Linked DNA regions of Homo sapiens. The protein of the gene in region 1 purifies or fractionates together with the protein of each later gene. This does not show direct contact. Each region holds a gene or a part of one and is shown in the gene's direction. Other genes may lie near its edges.

Region 1 (4,308 bases):
TTCCACGTCTAATCACCAAGCACTTCCTGTTCTATCTCCCAAATGATCACAAAACTTTTCCTTCCACTTCAGTCACTGCTGCTGCCTTTTTAGCCTTACTGTTCTCCAGATGAACATAGAGTATCTTAATCAGCCCCACTGCTTTCATAAAGCCCTCTCCACTGCGCAGAGTGACGTCACTGCAAGCACATCGGATAGAGACTCCTCACCCCTGTGTGGTTCAGTGACTCTCGTTTCCAGAATAAAATTCAAACTCTACCCCAGCATCTAATTTTGGGTCAGATAGATCTGCATTTTCATTCCAGGTTGATTCACTGTCCAGCAGTGTAGCCTCAGATAATTGAACCCTCTAAGCCTTTGTTTGCTCATCTGCCTGAACTCACTGAGGGTTGGGACTGTTTCACACATGCAGTATTGGCACTTAGACTTAATGTTGAATGAAGGGGAGGCATTTTAAAATTCACATCAAAAAACTGTTATTCTTTAAAAAAAATACTAATCTACAAGGTCACTTCCCCTCCAAGCATGACGTCTACCTTTACTTTCTGATAATCATGATCGGCTTGTGGGGATCAAGATTACTCAGGATTAAATTCTGGCCCCATCTTGAGCCGTCATGGAAACTTGGGGAAGCTACTTAACTTCTCCATCTAGATTGATTCTGCAAAATCCGTAAAATGGAATGGTTTCTGGGGGTTAAATTAGTATACCACTGTTGGAATACTGTCAGGCTTGCCAGATATTTACTGTTCATCTTCATCAAATGAGGACAGTGGTATCCCACTATATGGTTTTCAATTTTGTGTAAGAAAAACGTGCTTTATGCATTGTTAGTAAAAGAAATATCTGAATATCCCTGCCATGGAAGAAAGAAACAGAGGGAGAAAAGAGAGTTGGTAGGTCCTAGCATTTCAGAACTGGGAAGGATGAGTTCAGTCCCTATTTTATAGACAATGAAGGGAAAGTGTGATGTGTCCTAGGGTTTCATTCAAGTCGCAGTCATCACGCTTTATCGAGAGTGGGACCAGGGCTCTAGGAGTTGCTGTGGTCAAGTTGAAGACAAAAAGTAACACTTGTAAGACAGGAGAGAAGCATTTACTTACAAAGCAGTCCGAAATTTGTGTATAACTACATTTGGTGAGCAAACGAAAGCTGCCAGACTCAGAAAAACAGAGATGCTAATGGAACTGACTTTAGTAACCAGGGTTTTCTATTGAGTTCATTGCCCAGGGTGACTTCCAATAACAACCTCCAACCCCTGCACTTTTCTCAGGACTGGAAAGCTCAGGCAGCCCAGGATGAATAATGCAGTCACCACAGAGGGACAGGGTGGCCACAAGGTGGGCAGCAGCAGGGATGGGCATTGTGAGGCATTTGGTGGGTCTGTGGGGTCGGCCATTGTGAGCCACTAGCCTGACTTGGTTGTTTCCTGGCAACCAGGTGACATAGGAGGTTTTGTGGTTACTAGGCAACGGCCAGGGCCAGCAGCCTTCAGTCGGTAGCTGGCCGTAGAAGGAGGAGGAGCTCCGACTACATTCTGTCCTTGTGCCTCTTGGACTTTTTTGTGTGTTTAGGTGCCCAATGGGGAGCAAACTGACTTGCTGCCTGGGCCCCAGCGGGGGCCTCAACTGTGACTGCTGCAGGCCAGATGTGGGACCCTGCCATGAGTGTGAGATTCCTGAGACTGTGGCAGCCACAGCACCAGCATCCACCACTGCAAAGCCTGCCAAATTGGATTTGAAAGCTAAGAAGGCCCAACTCATGCAGTACCTCAGCCTCCCGAAGACGCCGAAGATGCTGAAGATGTCCAAAGGTAAAGAAGCCATGGGTGCCATTTGCTCTCTGGCATCTCTCTGGCCACCACCGCCCCCACCCCTTTGCAGTCCCTCACCCTCAGAGACATCCTCAGCTTCCAGCTCCCTCCTGCCCATAGCCGGCTTTCCCAGGGCTAGGCATGGGGGACAAAGGCTGGTTCTGCCTCTTGTCTTTGTTGTTGAGCCTTCTTTGTTGAGGACTTTTTGGTCTAGTCCCGGCCCTTTTCTCAGTAAAATTTCAAATACTCCAGTTTTGGAGTCCCCATCCCATTCTCTATCCTTACCCATCCAGCTGGTCTGGTACCTAAGTGAAGGAGCCAGTTAAGGGCCCAATTGTTTCTTTTCTCCCATTCCTTAAGGTAGCTAATAATTGGGATAATTTAGACTCAAATATGTGGAGACTTCTTAAATTCAAAATAGAGTTTGCCATGGAAGAGATTATATGGTATTCTTAATAGATGGTTTTAAGTCACATTGACAGAAGCTGCTTTACTTCTTCCAATTGTAATTTGAAGAAAGAAGGAAAAAAAATTGGGGGACATGCTTCAAATGACTGCAAAAGGTATGAAATGTTAGTGCCAGAGCTGTAAAGAAATTGCTTTTGTGTTGGTTTTACCCAAAGAGTTTAGTCATGGAGCTCTGATTACTTTAAAATTCCCAATTTGACATGAGTGTCTCTTCAGCCCTACTACAGTGTAGTCCCTATATTGTAGACAAGGAAGGGAAAGTGTGATGTGTCCTAGGGTTTCATTCAAGTCGCAGTCATCACGCTTTATCGAGAGTGGGACCAGGGCTCTAGGAGTTGCTGTGGTCAAGTTGAAGACAAAAACTAACACTTGTAAGACAGGAGAGAAGCATTTACTTACAAAGCAGTCCGAAATTTGTGTATAACTACATTTGGTGAGCAAACGAAAGCTGCCAGACTCAGAAAAACAGAGATGCTAATGGAACTGACTTTAGTAACCAGGGTTTTCTATTGATTTCATTGCCCAGGGTGACTTCCAATAACAACCCCCGCCCCCCTGCACTTTTCTCAGGACTGGAAAGCTCAGGCAGCCCAGGACGAATAGTGCAGTCACCACAGAGGGACAGGGTGGCCACAAGGTGGGCAGCAGCAGGGAGGTGTGAGCCATTGGGTGGGTCTGTGGGGTCGGCCATTGTGAGCCACTAGCCTGACTTGGTTGTTTCCTGGTAACCAGGTGACATAGGAGGCTTTGTGGGTACTAGCCATTGGGCAGGGCCAGCAGCCTTCAGTAGCTGGTAGTGGAAGGAGGAGCTCTGACTACACTCTCACGACTGTTTTTTGCCTCTTGGTTCTTGTTATGTCCCTTTCTTTTTGAAATAAGACGGAAGGTCCCCACCTTCATAGACATAGAGATCCCATCTTATTTGTTTTTTAAAATAAATTGAAAAGTGAGGCGGAGCCTTGTGAGGATGATGGGAGAGGGCTTCCAGAGAGGAATTTCTTCTTTGGAATTCCTGAAATGGGAACAAACTTGTTTTGGGAAAAGGACAGAAAGACACAAAGGTGGCTGCAGCAGAGTGAAATGAATATGATGGGCTAAGGCCTTGTACACGTAGTGAGCATTGACAAAGAATATGGACTTTAGTTGAGATGGGAAACCACTGGAGGATTACAGCCTGGGGATTACTGTTAATCCTCCAAGAAGAAGACTGACCAGCGGCTGTGTGAGAATGTCCTGTAATGCAGGCAAGGGTGGAAGCAGGGAGACCAGCTAGGAGGCTGGTGGCGAAGTGCAGGTGAGAGTCAACAGTGAACAGACAGACGATCATGACCTGAAATAGGCTGACTTGAGAATCTCTAGAGTCAAGTGATCCTAAAAGTAGGTAATAAAGTGATAAATAGAGAAGTCACAGAAAAAGAAATGCAAACGATCCTTAAACACATCTTCACACATAAGAGAAAGGCAAATGACAACTATACTGCAGTGTCTCTCCTACTGAGTGGAATTCCAAAAACGTGGCAATACATTCTTTGGTTTGGCTGTAAGGAAAGTTGCATGCATATATTGCTGGTGGAAATGCAAAATGGCTCGACTCCACGAAGGGGAATTTGTCACAATTGCAAATGCATTTAAGCCAGAAATCCTACTTTGAGGCATTTTATCTCGAGGGTATACTCCATAAATATGAAACAACCTATGCACAAAGTCCTTGTTGCATTATTTTCAATAGCTCAATATTGGAAATAACTGAAATGTCTAGTAAGGGACTAGTAAAATTAACTGGTACTTCCACCTAAAGGAGAACTATGGAGCTGTAAACAAGGGTAAGATGTCATTTTACTGCTATGGAGTGATTCCCAAGATAGGTTACACAGAAAAGCAAAAAGGGAGAACATGCGGTAACATACATGAAAGAAAGCAGGGGGAATAATGTGTGATTATTAAAACAAACAAAAAAACAACGCTGGGGAATTCTTGATGCTGACCTGTGACTGTTTTCTCCTTAACTTCAGTGGGTAGCCAAAGTG
Region 2 (3,519 bases), on another chromosome or scaffold:
TTAGACTTACTGTCTAACCTTTACATTACCCAACACTCCATGTGTTTGTACTCTTAAGTTCATTGTTAAGACTTTGACAGAATCAGGTGAATTTGCCAGGCAAGCACCTTTAAGAGGCTGCTTGTTTCCTCCTCATACTCTGCAATTTTGTTAGTTACTTCCTGGGGTAGTAGTGGAGGTGGAGGAAGGGAGTATAAAGAGATCATGCAGGTTGTGGTGATGGAGGTGGAAGAGGTAAAGGTAGCCCCAGCAGTAGGTATAGAGACCAAGTTACAGTGCTGCTTCCTGGGGCATGGATAACTGAGATAAGACAAATCCCATCATTTTGATACACATGTTCACAGCATGAATTAAATAACCCCTTCTCTAAGAGATTAATAACCTATAAGAAATACCTCAAATCAAAGTTAAAGTAACAAAAATTGTAGGTACTTTATGATGTCCTACTGATATTTAGCTTGAATTGATAAATAACCTATGTTTCTCATTTCTATCCATAGTTAGGCTAATATCTACAAACTTTCACAAGGACTGTTCCCCTCTCACTGTTGGATATTATTCAGCTAACCAGCTAAACCTTTAATAGGGTGCTTTCCTTACTCTTCAGAGTGAAACTCTTTCTATTCCCTTATTTCAAACTCAGCAGTGTTTGTGTTAGTCTGTCATCTCATGATTCAAAACCGAGGAAAAAGCACCTACGACATAATGTGGGCCTCATACCTGATGGCAACCCTGATGTTTTTCCTCAGTCAGTATACAAATTTATCTTGGTTACTATAGCAACCAGTCTATCAGTTATTCTTCTAGCTCTTTTGCCTTCTCTCAGATACTAGGATTACCATATAATCAGGTTCTGCCAGAGCGCTTCAGGTCTTAGAGTTCTATTACCAGCTGCAACTGTCTGGCAGTTCACAGTTTGGCATTCCATCAGAGTCAGTTGTTTTTTAAGTCCACAAAACCTTTTTGTCTCCAAACCTTTTTAAACATTTTAAACATATATAATTTAACAAAAACATGTTTAGGCAGCAATTTCCTCATACTAATTTTCTCAATCCAGTGTTAGTCATTGCCCTGAAGATTGAATGCATTGCATCACTGCATCCAATAGCCATCCCTTTATAATAACAAGTAGAATCAATTTCCAGATCGAGGGTGACCATTTAGGAAATATATTTGCAAATGTGATTTTAGACTCAGTATCATCACAAACTAGCTAAAATGACTTAAAAGCATCTTGATCATCAGCAGCTACCAAATAATCCAGCTTTTAACAAAAATGATTTCTATAGGTTGTAGAAAGAATGTTTGGCCTTTAGATTAATTCATTTTAATTTGAGAAAACTGTTTAGAAAACTAATAGGAAGTGTTATCTTTTGTAGCCCTTGAATAAACAGGAAGAGAACAGTAAAGACTGAATAGTTGTATGGGTCTTTTTTTTTATATTTATTTGACATACTTTTTTAACTCTTAAAAATCTCAGAATTCATGTAACTAAAATAGTTTTAAATTATAAATATGTTTACCTGTTTTGGTCAAAACAAGGATTGGCCAGGTACAGAAGCTCATGCCTGTAATCCCAGTGCCATGAGAGGCTGAGGTGGAGGGATCACTTGAAGCCAGGAGTTTGAGACCAGCCTGGGCAATGTAGCAAGACCTCATCTCTACAAAAAGTTTTTAAAAATTAGTTGGACATGATGGTGCATGCCTATAGTTCTAGCTATTTGGGAGATTGGGGCAGGAGGATTGCTTGGGCCCAGGAGGTCGAGGGTGCAGTGAGCTATGGTCACGCCACTGTACTCTGGCCTGGGCGATGGAGCCAGACTCTGTCTCTTAAAAAAAAAAAAAAACTATAGTTAAATTATGATAATGCTTCAAGGAAATCTTTAATTGTACAAATAGACTTAAGACTGGTTTCACTTTCTCCACAGAGTCCTGATCTTTAAAATTTTTCAAAGGGGGAGTCAGGTTTTTAAAAAATCTGAGGATGAAATATAAGATTTTTTGAAACTTCTGAGGGAAAACTTGAATGGTATTTTTTTTTATTATACTTTAAGTTCTGGGGTACATGTGCAGAACATGCAGTTTTGTTACATAGGTATACACTGAATGGTATTTTCTAATAGGTATCCTATACAGAACAAGCCATACCTGTAACAAGCTATCTATATCTGTATAAAACCTACTTGGCCACTACTAATTGTAATAGACTATTCCAGTACAAAACTCATTGAACCATGGGCATTCTTATGAACCACAGATCAAACTTTCTAGAGAACCTATAAATAGTATGTAGTGCTGTATGCAAACTCACTGTCCCAGGAGCAAGCATCCTGATTACTAAGCAAGCTCAAGAGAAGAGGTGGGAGTATTCTTTCTGACATTGTTCTTGAACTGGTAAGAATAGCTGTGGATGAACTTAATATCCATAGTCCTCTTTTAATTCTGTGCCTGAAAGTATTTATTGAAATTGGAAGACTAAGGGAATCATCTTTCTGGTTATTAGCAGTACTGTTAACAATTGAATTTTTTTTTTAAATCTGTCTTTTAAAATATATTACCTATCCATGCCAAACTAAAATGGCAGGTGGATTGAACATTTCACTCAGCCCCAACTCCACCCCTTTCACTGCCAGCTTTTTCTTTCCTAGCATAGTCAATGTCATTAGTACAGAGATTTCCTAGTATAACTACTTCTTGTCCCTTAAAACTGAGAAGGGTCAGTGATGGAAGAAATATAAAGGGTGGGAACTTTTGGAAGGAGTAAGGGAAAAATTGGTTGCATTGGATATGGTGGACAAGTTGGTAAAGACTTTAGTGTTACAGGTGGTGCTTAGTCATTGGATTAGTGAAAGATGGGTGAGCAGAATGAACAAGTAGCTTGATAAAACTAGTAGCTTTGTGAGTGAAAGCAAGTAGATTTGTCTGTATTTTGCAATGGGTATTTTATCTTTATTAGCTTGGCTTAAGGGTTAAGGTTAATGATTGAGATCAGTCCTTTTTCCTTTAAGTGCACCTTACTGTGCCTATTATGTCCCAGATCATAGCCCTTAGCTGTTGACTTTTAACCTTTGCCTTATTTCCCAGCATAGTCCACAGTTATGTCTAGCAGTGCACACAAGGTTTAGTTGGGGAGGCGGGTGGTGAGTAAGCATGCTCTGTGGTATCTACTGCGCTTCACAATTGGTTCTGATTTTGAACTTCCTGGTTCTCTCCAATCTCCAGTCACCCTTAAACACACACAGGTACCAGTTCCTATAAGAGGAGGTAGGTAAGGGAGCTGAGGCAAAGAGAGTGCTTTGGATGTATAGGATCTTCATAACTTGAGGACATCCTATACCCAGTAAATATTAAATGTTAACAGTAAAACCTTGGGTGGTGTTGCCAGTTATCCTGCATTCCTATCAGTTCCTTGTTACCAACTTTTTTTTCAGGAATGAATGTGTTCACAGTAAGAAAGAAATATTATAGTGCTACATGTTACATGCAAAGAACGATAACACCATAACACCATAATGCTAA
Region 3 (3,519 bases), about 15 Mb from region 1:
ATTCCTGACCTCCCCCGATCTGGCCCTGCCCCCACCTGCTCCCGGGGCACACGTGCTCACCAGCCCAGCCGTCATTATCTCCCGCATGCCCTGTGCCTCCCCAGGTGCCCTCTGCCCTCCCTGCCTGACATGTTTTCCTCTATCCTCAGCCTCACCAAGGCCCAGCCCTCCTTCCCAGACTCACCTAGCACTGGTTATTTTGCAGTATGTTCCAAGACTGGGCAGCGTTTACACCTTCTGTTTAGCTGGTTTCTCTGGCACTGCTCCAGCAGGGAACGGCGCTGGTACTGCCAGGTGGGGGTGGAAGCCCAGGTTCCCCTCAGCCTTGTTGGCAGCGGAGTCAGGGGCTGCTTGTCATTGCCGGGTGGGTGGGGGGTACAGCTCCCGCCAGGCCTCTGCTAAGGCCACCTTGGCGGGGGGTGGAGGTGCTTCCTTGCCGCTCCCCACATGCACTCCCCTAACAGCACGTGGGTGGAGTGTGGGCACCTTGCAGCTCAGTGGCAGTGAAAGCCCTGTCTCCCCACCAGGCCTCCTCTTACTCCACTCCAGCAAGGAGGAAGGGGCACCTCGCCAGTGCAGGGTGGGGGCCCGGGCTGGGCTGCCCCTTTGTCTCCACCAATGCCTAGTGGGCATGAGGCTTTTTACCAGCTGGCGCTGATGGGGGTTCCAGCTTCCTGCGTGGCCTCCCCTGTACAGCCCTGGCAGAGGTTGTGGGGTGCCTGCTCACAGCCTCTCAAGGGTGGAAGTCTAAGCTGCTAGTTGGCCACTTGGGCTTGGTTGGAGGGCTGGGCCCGTTTTTTTCTGGGGTAGGTTGTTATTGTCTCAAAGTTTTCTGTCTTGCAAAGCTGCCCCTTCCCTGGCTAGACTGAGTTGGCTTTCACTGGGGCTCTGCGTTTGTACCTGTTGGCATTTCCAGGTTTCAGGCTGCTCCAGTTCCAAATCCAAGATAGACGAGGCAAAGGAAACCCCCAGGGGGATGCCGTGTGTCTTTCTCAGATCCCAGGCCCTGAACAGCTGCCTTTTCTCTGCCTGTCAGAGTCTTCTTATATTTGTTTCATGTGTGACGTCCAGGGCTTCACTTAATAGGAGGAGTAGGAAAAGCACAGCTAATCCATCCTCCCAGAAGCAGAAGGTGCTTGTGCATTAAAACAATTTCTTTCTCTCTGCTCTTTAGAATAGATTCTTTCTGCTGACCTATTTTCAACTTCACTATTCCTCTATCTAATTCATTCTGCTGCTAAGCCTATCTGGTGATTTTTAAATTTCAGATACTGTACTTTCCAGTTTTAAATTTTTCCTTTTGGTTCCAATAGTTTCCATTTCTTTCCTGAAAACTTCTTTTTTTTTTGAGATAGACTGTCACTCTGTTACCCAGACTGGAGTGTAATGGTGTGATCTCGACTCACTGCAAACTCCACCTCCTGGGTTCAAGCAGTTCTCGTGCCTCAGCCTTCTGAGTAGCTGGGATTACAGGTGCCTGCCACCATGCCTGGCTATTTTTTTTTTTTTTTTTAGTAGAGACAGGGATTTGCCATGTTACCCAGGCTGGTCTTGAACTCCTGAGCTCAGGCAATCTGCCCGCCTTGGCCTCCCAAAGTGCTAGGATTACAGGCGTGAGCCACCACTCCCAGCCTCTTTCCTGAAAACTTCAAGTATGTTCAACTGTGTCTCAGTGAGCATGGTTATAACAGCTGCTTTGTTTTTTGTTTGTTTGTTTGTTTGTTTGTTTTGAGATGGAGTCTCGATCTGTCACCCAGGCTGGAGTGCAGTGGTGCGATCTTGGCTCACTGCAAGCTCCGCCTCCCAGGTTCACGCCATTCTCCTGCCTCAGCCTCCTGAGTAGCTGGGACTACAGGCGCCTGCCACCACGCCTGGCTAATTTTTTGTATTTTTAGTAGGGACAGGGTTTCACCGTGTTAGCCAGGATGGTCTCGATCTCCTGCCCTCGTGATTCACCTGCCTCGGCCTCCCAAAATGCTGGGATTACAGGCATGAGCCACCGCGCCTGGCCAAAGACTACTTTGAAGTCTTTGTCTGATAACATCAACATCTGGGTCATCTCAGGTTTGACGTCTTTTGATTATTCCCTTGAGAACGTTAACATTTCCTGGTTCTTGGTGTGCTGATTTATTGTGGGTTGTTTCCTGGATATTTGGTACATTATTTTGTAAGGCCAAGTCCTGTTAATGTTTTTTGGAGGCTGGGTGTTGTGCATGCCTGTAGTCCCAGCTACTCAGGAGGCTGGGGCAGGAGGAGCATTTGACACCAGGAATTCGAGGTTACGGTGTTCCATGATTGTACCACTGTACTCCATCCTGAGTGACAGAGCAAGACCCTGTCTCTTAAAAAAAATTAATAAAAAATAAAGTCATTTGGACAATTTTTCTATTTAATTAAATTAATTAATTTATTTATTTACAGTCTCACTGTTTCCCAGGCTGGAGTGCAGTGGCTCAGTTTTGGCTCACTGCAGCCTCTTGAGCACAAGCCGTCCTCCTACCTCAGCCTCTCAAGTAGCTGGAACTACAGGCATGTACCATCATTCTCCCTAATTTTTAAAATTTATTTTGTAGAGACAGGGCCTCACTATGTTGTCCAGGTTGGTCTCAATCTTCTGGCCTCAAGCAGTCCTCCCGCTTCAGCCTCCCAAAGTGCTGGAATTACAGGCATGAGACACCAGACCCAGCCAATTTTTCTTTTTCAAAAGCAGGTGCTCAGCCTGGCTGGGTACAGATGGCAGGTCTGTCTCATGTGGCGAGGGAGGTGGGCCCTGGCTGTCCAGCCTCCGAGGCCCTGGCTGCCCTGTTTTGGCCCCTCAGGAGTGAGGCTGGACTCATCTGGTCATTCTCAGAGCCAAGTATTCCTGCTCCAGCCCCCTCTCCTCTGAGCACCCCTCTGCCCTCAGCACACCCTGGCTTCTCTGGGACAGGGGCCTGCACCCACCCTGCTGCCCCATAGCTCAGACGTCCCCGAGGCCAGAGCTGGAGATAAACCCAGCTCCCAGCTGCTGACTCTGCACGCTGGCCTCTCCAGCCAGCGGGCCTGCTGCTGTGGATCTCTGGTGTCCCCGGTTCACTGCCTGTTTCTTGTATCTTGTCCAGAGCTATCAGTCATAGCGGGTGGGAGAGACAGGCGGTCGGGCTTGGTTCATTCTGGCCAGAACTAGATGTCTGAATGCTGCTTTCCATTTAGGCCAGCGTGTACTGTGCCCTGCAGTGCTGCGGGCTTCACACCCAATGGGATCCTCATAGCCCTCTGAGACGCCCCTTGTTATCTTCTCAGAGGTGGAGATGTGGGACTTAGAGCTGAGCTCACAGGTTGGGGAGTGGGGACTCAGAGCGAGGCTGCTCCAGAATCTGGGGTGAGCTCCCTCTTCAAAGGCAGGGACTCTGGGATTTGTTTAAGTAGCCCCCGTGGCCTTTCATAGCAGGGTGCACGGGGGGAAGAGCGGGGTTCCTGGAGCAAAATCAGTCCAGTTCCCATGACAAAGTTCCCTGAGGCACCGTACGGTCCCTGGAG
Region 4 (2,999 bases), on another chromosome or scaffold:
GGAGGCAGGGAGACAAGTATATAAGCATTTCACTAGTCCTAGAAACAGTCAGTCAGGTGTGAACCAAGGATACAGCCTAGGCAATAAAGAAAAAGCAATAGACGAACTGGGAGACACTTTAAAAGGGAAATTGGCAGACCCTGGCACTAGAACTCCTCGGTATCTTGGAGTTGGGCAAATGAGACAATTAGGATGAATATTGCTGCTATCTTTATGTTTTTATTTTCATAAGGAGAAGTTATTACTGAATCATGGGTCTTGTCTCCCAGAAATGGCAAGGAATGGCTTCTCACCGTTTTCACTTTCCCTTAACTCAGAGGAAAAAGATCTTTAGGTGGTTCTAAGTGTTAACTCCCCAAATTCAATTTGTGACTAAATTTACCCTCAAGGGTCCATTTGAATAAGAAAGAAGTGGGCTTAAAAGTAATTTGAGAGGACCTTGATTTCTGTGCTGTACAAATGGTGTGAATCAGGTGTGGGTGCTCTTGCAGTCATTCCCCTGCCCTGGAGGTTGCTTGCTCCTCATCCTGCTTAGTTCTGCATTGTCTCTCACTGCACTGACACTAGACATTAGTTGACAGAGCTGGTTATGATCCTATTAACAGAAGTGGGAAATACAGGGGGAAGAGCTGTGTGTGGGCGAGTGCCGTTTTGGATGTGTGACTTGAGGTAGAGACGCCCAAACAGTGGAAAATGAGAATCTGTAACTCAGCACAGAGGCCAGAGTTTGGTAGTTACTAGCATATCTTCCAAACCTATGGTAAGCATTTTTATTTAATCTTCGTAACCAATTGTTCATTATTTCCAAATTACAGATGAGGAAATGGCTGTACTGCCTCTTTTTATCCTCAGTATTCTCTTGGCTCCAGGTCCAGTTGATTCTACCTCAGGAATGTCTCTTCTGTTGCTTATTTCTTTTCATTGTCACTGCTTCCTTTCATGCCTGGACTAAAACTAAACTGCCTGCCTTCCTTGTTTGTCCATCCTTCAAATGGCCAACATGTTTACCCTGATTATGTCACACATACCCCCACCTGTCTGTTTCATCCACTTTCCCACTAGAGTGTTCTGTCCAGACCCCACGGTGTGGTTTTGCAAAGCAGCTGCAGTTCATACCCTCTCGCCTTCACCTGGCTTAGTTCCCCCCATGCTGCCGCATGGATTCACTCCACTCAGTCCTGTAGGGCCCAGCTGGCCACCGTGCCACTCTACTGCTCCTTCTCTTTCTCATCCATATGCTTCCTGTCCCCTTCAAGGCTTACAGGAAATGCCACCATCTCTGTGGCACTGTCCTCATTTCTCTAAGTTTTTCACATGACTTTGCTTTTGATAATGCATATTTCTGTGTCTTATGTGATGGCAAGTCATCAGTCAGCATGTCAGCAACGCCTCAGTTTTCTAAACACTTAAAAGCAGGGACTTCATCTTGTTCATCTCTCCATATACGCAGGAAGTATTTATCAAGAAACTGAGTGAATAAATAAGTATGAGTGAATAAAAATGAATGAAAGAGTGGTTTTGTTTAAGTGCCAGAAGTAATTTTCTTTTGAAGTCCTCTCTCCTGCCTGGATAACTTCACTAATTCAAGTATAATATTTACTATGACATAATAAAAAATCTGAACTCGTGTTGGAAATGTATATTGTGTGAGCATTTTAGAATTGCAAGACAATGTTTTTGTGTTTCCCAACATTGTTTTTATAGAACTAGTATATAAATAATGCTTAACTAATGGTAGTGAAACCATATACAGAAGTACATAGTTGCTTTCTTCTCTCTGCACAGGAGGGCTTATCGAGACAAATTGAAGTTTTGGACCCATTGTGTACTAGCAACATTGATTATGTTTACTATATTCTCATTTTTTGCTGAGCAGGTAAGTTTTATATATTTTATGTGGGTATTAAATGGTATTTCTTGGTATACTAGCATCTGAATGTTTTAGAAAATGATACACATTTACAATCAAAATTTTAACTTCTCTTATTGTCTTATAGCTCATATGTGAATATGTTAAATATGTTTCACAATATTCAGGCAGCAAATATAACAGTCTTTTATTCATTTCTCTTCTAAATCCATTACCAGTATTCTTTTTATCTGGAACTCAACAGATTAACTTGTAGATATCAGGCTAAAACCAAGTAGCTCTAAGTATTTATAACCAAAAAACCATCTAGAATCCTTATCTAATGTTAATTTTCTATGGGTCTCCAATTTTCTTCCTCTCTTTCACGCTTCCTTGAGTGAGCACAGTGTCTTCAGACATCCCACGGTTCCGTTGTGTTGTCCCACTCACACCAGTAGCTCCCATTTATCTTTCTTTCAATCGCTAGGAGTTCTCCCTCCTCTCTCCTCCTTCCTCCTCTCCTTGTCAGCCCCTCTACACCTGGGCTTTCCTCTGCATGCATGTACACACGCAGCCTCCTTGAGGTGAGTGTCCAGAAGTCGGAGGGAGATTTGTGAGGTAAAGAGAAAGGGATAAGAGAGTCCTCATTAGGCTATTCACATATCAAATACTCTGAAGAAAAAGGATTGAAGGAGGGGAATGGGCATCTTTACCAACCTGACTTGGGTGTGGCAAGTGACTTGGCCTCTGCCTCCAATCAAGGTGACTATTGAGTGGAGCTTTTCTAGCTGTCACTCAAATGAAACGTACACCAAGTTGACTTATACCAAGAAGGACAAGCACCTAAGTACTGAGAGCTTCAGGATAAATGAATGGGCTTCTTGCTGTAAATGGAAGGAAATTCAGGAAACAGAGACTGGGCAGGTGAACAGGACAGCAACTTAACCTTCATCTGCTTTCCAGGGATTGTACATCTTGTTCTTGATGTCTGTTACCATTGTTCCTGGCAGGTAAAAGTCTTATGAAAAATCTCAGAAAGGCTGTACCTGCTTTTAGAACAGGGTCCAGTGAGAAACCTTTGAGTCTGCTGTGCTGACCTAGGATGGGGAAGGAAAGGAGCCCTGACTCAAAGGAGCAGCCATTAATGGAA
Region 5 (3,519 bases), on another chromosome or scaffold:
CACCTGTAATCCCAGCACTTTGGGAGGCTGAGGCGGGTGATCACCTGAGGTCAGGAGTTTCAGACCAGCCTGACCAACATGGTGAAACCCTGTCTCTACTAAAAATACAAAAATTAGCTGGGCATGTTGGTGGGTGCCAGTAATCCCAGCTACTCGGGAGGGAGGCTGAGGCAGGAGAATTGCTTAAACCCGGGAGGCAGAGGTTGCAGTGAGCCAAGATCGTGCCATTGAACTCCAGCCTGGGTGACAGAGCAAGACTCTGCCTCAAAAAAAAAAAAAAAAAGAACTTCAAAAACACCAGCAACAAAACCAAAAGAAACAATTTAATAGCATAAAGATACAACCTAGAGATTGGAAAAAATATTTGCAACTTATACATCTGATAAGGGGCAAATGTCCAAAATATATAATATTTTTGATATTACTCTAACAACTCAATAGCAAGAAAACAAATAACACAAGGAAAAATGGGCAAAGGATCTGAACAGGCATTTCTCAAAAGAAGAAATACAAATGGCAAAAGAAATATGAAAAAAATAGCATCTCTAAAACATCAGGAAAATGCGAATTAAACACATGATGAAGTATCACTTCATGTCTTTTAGAATGACTATTATCAAAAAGACAGGCCGGGCGCAGTGGCTCACACCTGTAATCCCAGCACTTTGGGAGGCTGAGGCAGGTGGATCACGAGGTCAGGAGATGGAGACCATCCTGGCTAACGCGGTGAAACCCTGTCTCTACTAAAAATACACAAAATCAGCCTGGCGTAGTGACGGGCGCCTGTAGTCCCAGCTACTTGGGAGGCTGGGGCAGGAGAATGGCGTGAACCCAGGAGGCAGAGCTTGCAGTGAGCCGAGATTGCGCCACTGCACTCCAGCCTGGGCAACAGAGTGAGACTCTGTCTCAAAAAAAAAAAAAAAAAGACAAGCCATTACAAGTGCTGGCAAGCATATGGAGAAGAGAGAATTCTTTTTTTTTTTTTTTTAATTTTTATTTTAGGTTCAGGGGTACATGTGCAAATTTGTTATATAGATAAATTGCATGTCATGGGGGTTTGGTGTAAAAGATTATTTCATCACAGAGATAATTAGCATAGTACTGGCTGGAGCAGTGGCTTGAGTCTGTAATCCCAGCACTTTGGCAGGCTGAGGCACGTGGATCACCTGAGTTCAGGAGTTCAAGACTAGCCTGACCAACATGGCAAAACCCCGTCTCTACTAAAAAATACAAAAATTAGCCAGGTGTGGTGGCGCGCTCCTGTAATCCCAGCTACTTAAGAGGCTGAAGCAGGAGAATCACTTGAACCCAGGAAGTGCAGGTTGCAGTGAGCCGAGATCGTGCCATTGCACTCCAGCCTCAGCAACAGAGCGAGATTCCATCTCAAAAAAAAAAAATTGCTCACTTTAGCAGCACATATACTAACCAAAAAAAAAAAAAAAAAAAAAAGTAAGCATAGTAGCTTTTCTGTCCTCACTCTCCTCCCACCCTCCACCCTCAAGGAGGCCCCAGTGTCTGTTGTTCTCCCCTTTGTGTCTATGTGTTCTCAATATTTATCTCCTACTTATAAATGAGAGTATGTGGTATTTGGTTTTCTGTTCCTGCATTACATCACTTAGGATAATGGCTTCAGCTCCATTCATGTTGCTGCAAAGGACACGATCTTGTTCTTTTTTTATGGCTGTGTAGTATTCCATAGTGTATATGTTCATTTTCTCTATCCAGTCTACCATTGATGGGCATTTAGATTGATTCTATGTCTTTGTTATTGTGAATAGTGCTGCAATGAACATACACGTGCCTGTGTCTTTATGATAGAACAATATATATTCCTTTGGATATAAACCTGGTAATGGGATTACTGGGTCAAATGGTAGTTCTGTTTTAACTTCTTTAAGAAATTGTCAGGCCGAGCGTGGTGGCTCATGCCTGTAATCCCAGCACTTTGGGAGGCTGAGGAGAGTGGATCACCTGAGGTCAGGAGTTCGAAACCATCTTGGTCAACATGGTGAAACTCCATCTTTACTAAAAATACAAAAATTAGCTGGGCCTGGTGGTGGACTTCTGTAATCCCAGCTACTTGAGAGGCTGAGGTTGGAGAATCACTTGAACCCAGGAGGCGGAGGTTGCAGTGAGCTGAGGTCGCACTGCTGCACTCCAGCCTGGGTGACAAAAGCGAAACTCTGTCTCAAAAAAAGAAAAAAAGAAATTATCAAACTACTTTTCACAATGGCTGAACTAATTTATATTCCCACCAGCAGTGTATATATATTTCTAAGAAAAAAGGGAATTCTTAAACATCATTGGTGGGAATTTAAGTTGGTACAGCCATTTTGGGAAATAATATGAAGGTTCCTCAAAAACTAAAAATAGTATTACTGTATGATCCAGCAGTACCACTACTGGGTATGTACCCTAGTGGAATGAAATTGATCTGTCAAAAGACATGTGCACTCACATTTTTATTTCAGTCTTTTAAAATATGTTAAGACTTATTTTGTGGCCTAACATATGATCTATCCTGAAGAATGTCTTGTGTTTGTTTGAGAAAAATGGGTATTACTTTGCTGTTGGATGAAATATTCCACATATGTCCATTAGGTCTATTTGGTCTAAAGTGTAGTTTAAATCTGATATTTTCTTACTGATATTCTGTCTGGATAATCTATCCATTGCTGAAAGTAGGGTATCTAAGTCCCTTACTATTATTGTAATACAGTCTATCTCCCCCTCAGGTCTGCTAATATTTGCCTTATATATTTAGAAGTTGTGATATTGGGTGCATATATATTTACAATTGTTATTTTTTTAATGAACTGACCTCTTCATCATGATATGATGACCTTCTTTATATCATTTTACAGTTTTTGACTTAAAGTCTATCTTCTGTGATAGGAGTATAGCTTTCCGTGCCTTCTCTTTTAGTTTCTAATTGCATGAAATATCTTTCCGTGTCTTCACTGTCAGTCTGTATGTATCATTAAAACAGCTATGTGAATTTGTTGATTGATTTTGAATATTGACTAACGGTGTCTCCTAAATATGATATATAAATGGAAATATGTAACTAAAGTATTTTCAATTGTAAGGCCTTTTTGCTAGCAGAATTTACTCTGATAAAATTATTTACACTAGTGATGTTATATTACATATTCTGTTAGCACTCCAAAATACCCAGAGGTAGTTTATAACATACTACACAATTGTTAATAAAAACCTATGGCATATATGCACATAAAATATTATTTCACTATTTCCTGCTTATTCTTCAGGTAATAAGTTTAAAGCAAATTTGCTAACCTATAAATAATCTCTGCCTATGGTTGGTATGTATAGTACAACCACACTTACATGCTTAAAAGAATTATAGCTATTAATCAAATTGTTCAGTTGTGTGTTATTTTAAATGTGTTTTTTATTCATGTATTCATTCATGAACACTTACTGATTGTCAGGGATTGATACTGAATGTTGTTGATTCATTATTATTTTTTTACTAGTGGAAAATGAAAATCACTG

What was found.
Region 2: the proteins of C22orf42 (region 1) and WDR44 purify together in Homo sapiens (affinity purification with mass spectrometry; one large-scale study listed by BioGRID and IntAct). This does not show direct contact.
Region 3: the proteins of C22orf42 (region 1) and CERK purify together in Homo sapiens (affinity purification with mass spectrometry; one large-scale study listed by BioGRID and IntAct). This does not show direct contact.
Region 4: the proteins of C22orf42 (region 1) and GNPTAB purify together in Homo sapiens (affinity purification with mass spectrometry; one large-scale study listed by BioGRID and IntAct). This does not show direct contact.
Region 5: the proteins of C22orf42 (region 1) and SEPTIN14 purify together in Homo sapiens (affinity purification with mass spectrometry; one large-scale study listed by BioGRID and IntAct). This does not show direct contact.

What each region holds. Positions count from the first base shown.
Region 1 is NC_000022.11:32,156,489-32,160,796, reverse strand, and holds the start of C22orf42 (uncharacterized protein C22orf42), read left to right. Parts: upstream 1-1,493; 5' UTR 1,494-1,574; coding exon of another isoform or gene 1,575-1,581; coding exon 1,582-1,813; intron 1,814-4,308.
Region 2 is NC_000023.11:118,352,588-118,356,106, forward strand, and holds part of WDR44 (WD repeat-containing protein 44), read left to right. Parts: intron 1-3,519. UniProt on the Homo sapiens protein: Downstream effector for Rab11 which regulates Rab11 intracellular membrane trafficking functions such as endocytic recycling, intracellular ciliogenesis and protein export.
Region 3 is NC_000022.11:46,728,250-46,731,768, reverse strand, and holds part of CERK (ceramide kinase), read left to right. Parts: intron 1-3,519. UniProt on the Homo sapiens protein: Catalyzes specifically the phosphorylation of ceramide to form ceramide 1-phosphate.
Region 4 is NC_000012.12:101,747,978-101,750,976, reverse strand, and holds part of GNPTAB (N-acetylglucosamine-1-phosphotransferase subunits alpha/beta precursor), read left to right. Parts: intron 1-1,785; coding exon 1,786-1,876; intron 1,877-2,999. UniProt on the Homo sapiens protein: Catalyzes the formation of mannose 6-phosphate (M6P) markers on high mannose type oligosaccharides in the Golgi apparatus.
Region 5 is NC_000007.14:55,807,240-55,810,758, reverse strand, and holds part of SEPTIN14 (septin-14), read left to right. Parts: intron 1-3,500; coding exon 3,501-3,519. UniProt on the Homo sapiens protein: Filament-forming cytoskeletal GTPase. Involved in the migration of cortical neurons and the formation of neuron leading processes during embryonic development.